2 separate regions of the Homo sapiens genome follow, and region 2 is linked to region 1. The links come from fine-mapping of genetic effects on gene expression. A gene starts in region 1. The other region holds a variant in brackets. All regions are shown on one strand. Distances are from middle to middle. Region 1 holds the start of P3H1 (prolyl 3-hydroxylase 1). Region 2 overlaps TMEM269 (transmembrane protein 269).

What was found. PIP is the estimated chance that this variant, and not a neighbour inherited with it, causes the effect. A credible set is the group of variants that fine-mapping cannot tell apart.
Region 2: its variant is the best candidate, but not a certain one, in a credible set for the expression of P3H1 in whole blood (TOPMed, PIP 0.52).

Annotation. Positions count from the first base shown.
Region 1 is chr1:42,765,303-42,769,691 of GRCh38, forward strand. It overlaps P3H1 (prolyl 3-hydroxylase 1), which reads right to left and starts at 1,726. Exons shown (of 15, transcript NM_022356.4): 1 at 1,205-1,726. The coding sequence starts at 1,669. It overlaps C1orf50 (chromosome 1 open reading frame 50), which reads left to right and starts at 1,947. Exons shown (of 5, transcript NM_024097.4): 1 at 1,947-2,088; 2 at 2,207-2,322. The coding sequence starts at 2,010. RefSeq lists an enhancer at 985-1,104 and silencers at 1,365-1,474, 2,095-2,234.
Region 2 is chr1:42,796,326-42,800,714 of GRCh38, forward strand. It overlaps TMEM269 (transmembrane protein 269), which reads left to right. Exons shown (of 6, transcript NM_001354602.2): 6 at 1,773-4,389. The coding sequence ends at 1,900. Among named protein-coding and RNA genes, the nearest start is that of TMEM269, 14 kb to the left of the region's middle. The variant G/C (reference allele first, on the strand shown) is at 2,242.

The sequences.
Region 1 (4,389 bases):
CTTCTTTGAAGTCTAATTTCTCTGAGATAAAGCTAGAGTCTCCCTCCTTTGTGCTCCCGCAGCCCTAAGTATATGCCCTTGCAGTAGCCCTTACTACAGTAACTCTTAACAGCAAAGCAAGACAAAGCAAAGACGTTAGTCGAGCATTTAATTACTTGTACAAGAACTGGAATGCAGTAGGTATGCAATACATGTTTGTCAAATAGTTTTAGAAAGTGCTATGATGAAGCGACATAACCAAAGACATAACGCAATTATTTTGATTTCAAGTCCAGCGCTCTTCCGAGTAACTAGGAAAAATGAGGGGAACTGTGTAGGCAGAATGCTGTGGAGGGGTGGAAATCTGAGGTCCCCAAGAGTCTCTAAGTGTCTCTTTAGATCGAATCGAAGGTCTTTTAAACAACAGATATACCAGATATAATGCACAACTCTTTCTCCCCCCACCCCCAATACAGTGGGACTAATAACAGCATCTACCTGACAAGATATTATGAAGATTAGGGCAAATGCGTTAATAAATGCAAACTGCTTAAAATAGTGCCTGGAAGTATGTGCTGGCTATCATCATCATCATCATCGTCACCATCACCACCACCAAACAAGCCTGGAACGCTCCAAGCCCAAGTGTACACTTGGACACATGGCACTCTGGCATTCCGAAAAATACTCATTTTCTTTGTAAACCTGGCAGACTAGCCAGAGGGTCCCCCCCCCGCCCCCACACACACACAGAAAGGGCCAGGCAGCCCCTGCTGGCGACGTGGCAACCTCACATCCTGAAAGAGAGCTGCTGAATCAAACAGCAGGAAAAGCACCACTGGAAAACCAACCGGAAGGGAGATATTGTAGACCGCTACTAGCTTCTCACTCGGACACTTACAATGACATCAGAATGGGAGACCCAAACTGCCGCTTTAATTCCTTCCAGGAGATTTCCCAGGGAACAAAATGGCCATGAGTTTTGCTTGGCCTGTGCCCTAACCCCAGGCTGGACCTTTGGGGTTAGCATCTGCCCATGCGAACTGGGCGAGGAAGGTCTCCTGCCAGGGAGCAGCTCTCCCCGGCTCCGAGGAGAGCTCCCCAGCCAGGAGGCCACTTTCCCCTCCCTGCGGACACTTCCCCGATCCCCCAAGCTCCTCAGGTCCCCTGCAACACTCCTCTCCCCAGAAGGACCCCGGCCGCCTGGTTCCAGGCAGGTCTGCACCTTGAAGTAGGCGACCTGCAGGTAGTTGTAGGGGCTCCGCTTGCGGAACTCCAGCTCCATCTCTTCGCTGAGCGAGTGGGCGGCCGGCGGCCCGAGGCAGCGGCGCAGGCAGGCAGCGCGACGCAGAAGGCCCCCGAAGAAGCTCAGGTCGCGCAGGGCGGCGGCGCCCGAGGCCTGGGCCGGGCTGGGGGACCAGTCGGGGTCCAGCTCCCACGGGAAGTCGGCGGCACACTGGGTGCGGCAGCGCAGGCGAAGGGCGCGGAGGGCTGCCCGGGAGCGCAGCGCCCGTTCCATGCTCAGGACCACCCCGGGCCAGTCCCCGCGCGCGTAGGCTGCGGTCCCCTCGGCGAAGAGCAGATCAGGCGTCACCATGCCCCATCCTGCCTCGGACTCGACCTCGGCTTGGGAGGCAGCGGCCACGACAGCCAGCAGTGTGGTCAGCAGCTTCAACGCGCGTACCGCCATCGCTCCCTCAGACCTAACGGAACCGCCAGCCACCCGCCACCAAGGCCGGAGTCCTACCCCCGGCGAAGGCCCGCCCCCGGGCGAAGCCCCACCTTCCAAGCCGGGCGGCGCATGCCCACGAGGCTTGCACCGCCTCTTTTCCTTTCAGTCAGCCCGGATCCCCCCACCGGCCCTCAGCGAATCCCGGCGCGTCAGCCGGAGCCCCGCCTCCGAGCTCAGGCCTTGCTCAGTCGAACTGACGCCCAGTAGACAAGAAAGACGGAAGCTCCGCCCACGCGCCTTTATGCGCAGGCTCTTCCTACTCGCACAGCCCAGGGAGTGGGGAGGATAAGGCGCTGTCATGGAGGACGCCGCCGCGCCGGGGCGGACCGAGGGGGTCCTTGAAAGGCAAGGAGCGCCGCCAGCTGCAGGCCAGGGAGGTATGCGGGGCGGGAGTCAGCAGGGGGAAGTCAGCTCCCGCGAGGCAGCCGGTCTCGGGGCTCCGCGGGAGGCCGACGGCGGGAGCTCACGGCTTGTGTTCCTGGGTGTGTGTCGCAGGAGCCCTGGTGGAGCTCACCCCGACCCCCGGCGGCCTGGCCCTGGTGAGCCCCTACCACACCCACCGGGCCGGGGACCCCTTAGACCTCGTGGCGCTCGCAGAGCAGGTGCAGAAGGTGAGGAGGCGCGGCCGGGGCAGCGAATAACCATCTTCGTTCACGTTGTACTCTGCGTCTTTCGGCTCAGACCTCACTACCACCTATGGTGGGGGTGGCATTTGCTCTTGTCTCCATTTTACAGACGAGTAAAGCCGACTGTCATTGTGAGTCGGTGGCCTGATTCGAATGACCTTCTGGGACCAAAGGTTCCTCTAACTGCAACTTGAGTGCCCATAATCTTCCTTCGTGGGAAGGTTTACACAACACTTTAGTGTTCATTATTTCATTTGCACCTTAGGACAGCCTTGTGAGGTAGGCAGTACAGAGTTATTCTTCCCATTTGACACAAAGAAAAGTTCTTCGGGAAGTTTCAAGGTCCGCTTATTTTAAGCTGCTTCCCATAAGATCTTTGTTACCTGAGAGTTTAAACATCTTCTAGCAGGGCAAGGACTCCAAGTTTAGTCCTCATTAAACACAGTATTCCCAAGCCCAGTGTTTATATATGGATGGCCAAAATAAGTCAAATAAGGAGGAAATGTGAAATAATGGAAAAAACACTGGAAGTTTGGACACATGAGTATTAATCCCACTTTTGATACTAACTTGCAGTGCGACTTAAGGCAGATTACTTCTCTCTGGACCTCAACTATTTTATCTGTGAAGTGAAAGGTTTGAAGTAGTAGAGCTCCAAGATCTAAAGTTTTGTCATTATTCAATGAAAAACCAGATTCCTTCTTATCTCTTATCAAGACTTCCAGTTGTACACCCTCTTCAGTGTCCACAGATGGAGGGTCCTGCTGTTTTAAAGATTATCATGGCCCCTTATCCCTGTATACACTATCAGATTTGGCCTTGATTATGTTCCAGGGTCTTTGCTTTGCCCAAAATTATTTAATGTGCTCAAATTCCCTCACATCTCTTTTTTTTTCAATGATCCTAGAAATCCTTCGAATCCTTTTTTTTTTAAAATTAAGAAAAATTCAGATACGCAGAAAGCTCCTTTAATTCAAAACTTGGCTTTCTTCTTTTTGAAGAGCTGGGGAGCAAAGTGCAACTTTTATTTATTAAGAGAATATGCATCTAGTTAATCAGATTACTCTTATTGGGAGGGAGGTTGGCAGGGACAGAATCTTGTGCACACAACGTATTCATGTGCTATTGAATGACTATCGTGTTTATTACGATGGCCTGAACAGATGGAAGAAAGAACACAGTTTTTGTCTTTCATCCTATAATCTTATGAAATACAGAGGATGCATTATTATGCTGCCTCTGTTTCCCCAATACAATCTGTATTTGAGAAGCTGAAGAAAAAAAAAACTTTAGAGACAAACAAATTGAATCAAACATATTAACTATCTAAAATGTACTTTTTGGCCAGGTGCCGTGGCTCACACTTGTAATCCCAGCACTTTGGGAGGCCAAGGTGGGTGGATCATTTGAAGTCAGGAGTTCGAGACCAGTCTGGCCAACATGGTGAAACCCCGTCTCTACTAAAAGGTGTGGTGACTCATGCCTGTAGTCTCAGCTACTCGGGAGGCTGAGGCATGAGAATCGCTTGAGCCCAGGAGACAGAGGTTGCAGTGAGCCGAGATCGCACCACTGTACTCCAGAATTGGTGACAGAGTGAGACTCTTAAAAAAAAACAAAAAAATGAGGCTGGGTGTGGTGGCTCACGCCTGTAATCTTAGCACTTTGGGAGGCTAAGGCGGGAGGATTGCCTGAGCTCAGGAGTTGGAGACCAACCTGGGCGACATGTGAAACCCTGTCTCTACTAAAATACAAAAAATTAGCCGGGCATGGTGGTGTGTGCCTGTAGTCCGAAGCTACTCTGGAGGCTGAGGCGGGAGAACTGCTTGAACCTGGGAGGCAGAGGTTGCAGTGAGCTGAGATCACACCACTGCACTCCAGCCTGGGTGACAGAGCAAGTCTAAAAAGAAAAAAAAATGGTGGTGGGCTGGGTGCAGTGGCTCACGCTTGTAATCCGAGCACTTTGGGAGGCCAAGGCGGGTGGATCACGAGATCAGGAATTCAAGACCAGCCTGGCCAACATAGTGAAACCCTGTCTCTACTAAAAATACAAAA
Region 2 (4,389 bases), 31 kb after region 1:
TGTGAGTAAGGGAGGAAACTGCACCTTACAGATTTTGACAACAGTTAATACCAGAGCCCTACTGGGTAGATTTCAAAATGGCTTCTGTGGACATTCCTCTTATTTGGAGTGCAGCCAGTCACCTTCTTAGACTGAGGTCCCTTCTACCCCACAGAGCTTCGTACGTCTGAGAACTGGCCTGTGACCAGCACTCTGAAACCTTATATGAAATACTTTTTTTTTTTTTTTTTACAGGGAGTAGCCGAAAATCATACATACATGGTAGAGAGGGGTCTCACTCTTTTGTCCAGGCTGATCTCAAATTCATGGATTCAAGCAATCCTCCTGCCTTGGCCTCCCAAAGTACTGTGATTACAGGCATGAGCCAACGCGCCAGCCATGTACTTTCCAAGACAACTCTGGTTTTCAGTATTGTCTTTTTGCCTCAACAGATCAATGACTATTCTTGAAATACAGTATTCCAAAATGCCCATGCATATCCTTAACTGCTTATTACTCCTAGAAGTGGTCTTCTATCAGATCATATGTTCTGATTTCTCTTACAGGATACATGGTGATCATTCCCATGGAAATACCATTGGCTCATACTCTCTTTGTCCTCTTTTTGAGCTCCCTGAGGCAGTGTGTCTAGTTTTTAAGAGTCAAGCAGAAGTGGGTTTGAATCAGGACCTCGTACAGGTTACTTCTGTTTCTTCTTATGAAAAACAGACTTAGTTCTAAACCACGGGATTATTGTGAAGTGTAAATGAAAAAAATGTACACATCTAGCAGAATGTCTAGTGCAAAATAGATATTCCACAAACGTGAGTGCTCTTTTGCCTTTTGGTGGCGAATCTGAGATGCAAATTGTGTTGGGAGTCCCCAAGACCACCCCTGAGAAGACTCACAGGACTCAGCTTGTTGTACTCATGGCTAAGATTGATTTCAGCAAAAGGATGTAAAGCAAAATCAGCAAAGGGAAAAGGTGCATGGGAAAAAGTTCAGGGGAAACCAGGTGCAAGCTTCAGAGAGTCCTCTCCCAGTAGAGTCACACGAGATGCACTTAATTCCTCAGCACTGAATTGTGATAATACAATAAAGTGTTGGCTACCAGGGAAACTGATGAGAGACTCAGTGCCCAAGTTTTACTGGGGGATGGTCATGTCAGCACCCTGTGCCTACCATGTACCAAAATTCCAGATTCCCAGAAGGAAACCAGGTGTTACCACCGTGCTTATATGGACAGTCTAGGAACAGTGAGACACTCTTATCAGTTGGGGAAAGTTTTATGTTGGTCTAGGGAACTGTTTACTATTCAAGTTTCCAGCCATCAGCCAAGGGCCAGCCTTGCAAGAAGGCCTTTCTGAGGATAGCAGTCTCAGGCCTGCACGTAAACTCTTTTCTGCATACATATCATACTGCATTGGTCGTTATCACATGTTAAATTTAAAACAATGAGGAAGATTTTTTTTTCCTAACAAGGGTTTTTGGTTTTTGTCTTGGTTTGTTTTGTTTTCCCTAACAAAGGCAATTCAGATTTATTATTGGCTGGAACTTCTGATGTGAATTTGACACAGTGGAACCTGAGACTGCATTGGGCTATACTTCTCTAGTTACTTACCTATCTCTATTAAACTGAACTTGAAGACAGGGCTCCTGTCTCTTTCTGTTTGTTTCTTAGGCACTGTGGGTGAAAAGTAAAGAATGGGAGGGTGGGGACGGGAGAGTAGAGGGTAGAAAGCATAGAAGACAGCTTCCTAGAAATTGAGTGTCTGCACTTTTTGTTCTTCCAGGTGTCATCATGCTGTTTTTCTCCCCATTGTCTCTGTCTGCTTTTTACTGCCTGATGTGGTCGCTCTCGTACATCTTCTTTCCAGATGCTCTGTGGGGCAAGGCAGCCTGTCTTTCGCCACAGCACTGAGGAAGCTAAGCAGCTCTACCAGCTCCTGCCGGCCTCTGTGGGGTTTGTGTCAGCATATTGGGTCAAGCCTGCACTAAAGCTTTGTATGTACCTGTGTTGCCATATACTAGATATATGGTATGTCTGTTGCCATGAAGTTAGAAACCCAAAGCAGGGTCAGTGAACTTCACTTCTTTGTCTTTATTCAGGGTTCTGACTCCCTTGCGGACAATACTTGTTTATGTCATGTAGAGCAGAATATCCCCCCGCCTCAAGCTCAATGTGGGCTGGGTTTGGGTTCCAGCTCCATTACCAGCCGGGTGACTGTGTGCTACTAAGGTCCATCCCTTGGAAAGGAGTGA[G/C]AGCCTTCAGAACTGGTATTGGCCTCAGCCTCAGCCCTGCCTGGTGGGGCTTCCTGAAGCATTTCTTACTCTTGCAGACTCTGGCTCTGAGAGTAGAGCCAATCACAGGACTCTCTTGTTGCCTAGTTTGAATGTGTGTAGGATTTTGTAACTTCAACATTCTGGGTTTTTTTTTTTTTTTTTTTTTTTTTTTTGAGAAGGAGTCTCGCTCTTTCACCCAGGCTGGAGTGCAGTGGAGCGATCTCGGCTCACTGCAGGCTCCGCCCCCCGGGATTCACGCCATTCTCCTGCCTCAGCCTCCCGCGTAGCTGGGACTACAGGCTCCCGCCACCTCGCCCGGCTAATTTTTTGTATTTTTAGTAGAGACGGGGGTTTCACCGTGTTAGCCAGGATGGTCTCGATCTCCTGACCTCGTGATCCGCCCGCCTCGGCCTCCCAAAGTGCTGGGATTACAAGCGTGAGCCACCGCGCCCGGCCTACATTCTGTATTTTAATAGTTCAAAGCTGCCGCCTTTTGCTTTGTTTAGCAGTTAGATACATTGGTGACACAGGGCATCATCTGGCTTGCAGGATCTCGTGTGGATTTTCTTTCCTACGCTGGAAACTACTAAACTCTAGCTATTCAGATGCCACTTCATATTCTAAAATCCAAATCAAATAGAAATAAACAGTACTGTATGGCAAAGGTGTACCTCACCGAGAACTCAGGTCCACTGAGCCCCCAGCGTAGATAGACATTCCACCTCCCAGATGGTGGAAAAAAGGATTGATGGCTGGTTCTGCTCCACCCTCAGAGACTGTGCCAGAACACCTTCTACCCTGGATATAACTTTTTTAAGTTTCCAGAACAATGTATGTGGTAAATATACATCTATTCTCAAATTAGATGTTTAAAAATAAAAACCCAAAGTAAGATTTGACTGTAACAGAATAGACGGTGCCTTCCTGTTAAATCATTCATATGTTCCTAGTTAGATGGATTTGCCTGTGTCCCAGGACTTTATATCTCCTTCAGTTTAAGTTTTGTATTTTTGCTATCTGCCATAGTGCCTGACACTCAGAAATGTTCCCTTTGTATATGAATTGATTTAGTTGTGGATTCTAGTAAGTTACATACAAGGTTTCTATAATGTGGTAAGAATTTTACAAATATACACGAGCTTAGACATTTCAATACAATGTCCTTCAATGCTGTACATCCATTTCAATGTGATGCTCCCCTTAATCAAAGCATTTTAGGAACTCCAATCTGAAAATGGTCTTCACATAAATTCTTAAGGACCAAGCAGCTGGAACAACACCACCACCACCAAAAGCGAAAAACAGGTTTTATTCTGAACTAAATTTTTTCCAAAAACCTAACATTTGAGATTAGCCAATTATGTCGTATTCTTAAATCAAATTAGGTATCATATTTGGACTCAAATGCCTTGTGGCTGTTTCTAAAATTTGAAACTATGTTGAAAGGAAAAAGATGCAATTCTGAAAGAGAATTTCCATGTCCATTTTAAGTGACAGCAGCAGAGAGAAATATACAGACCCCCAGGAGGACAGCTTTGAAAAGTAAAATGCCCATTTGGATGTGTAAATTATCGCTTGATTGTAATGGCAATAATTCATACTTAATTGCCTCCAGTTTTTTTTGTAGGTTAATGACACTAGGATAGTTATAGGTCAGCTGACAGCCGGTTAACAGAGGGATCTATGCTTCCTTGCACCTCTCTGAGAGTATGGTTATACTTCTATACGGGCTTGAGGGTCTCAGATACTAAGGCTACTCATTCAATGCCTTCACTTCCTCAGACAGTGGTTTTCTAAAATAGAATGTCTCTTCTTGGGCTTCCTCTTAGGAACAAGGGAGAAGGCCAAGACTTTAAAATCTGCACTTCTCAAATGCATACATGAAGCCAGTGGGGTTTAGGCAGTTCTCTTTGTCCTAAGCTTGAGAGAGAGTGTAGATTTCCCTCCTGGTCAACTTCTAGTCCCTTCTTCCTAACCTGAAGTCCTACTTCTGTGTCTGATAAGCGGAATCAAGTGACTGAGAATTCTGCTACTCTTTTAGCCCTGTGACCTTGAATAAAACGTTTAATCTCTCTAAGCCTATTTTCCTATCTGTAAAATGGAGGATTTACTTCCTTTCAGGGTTGT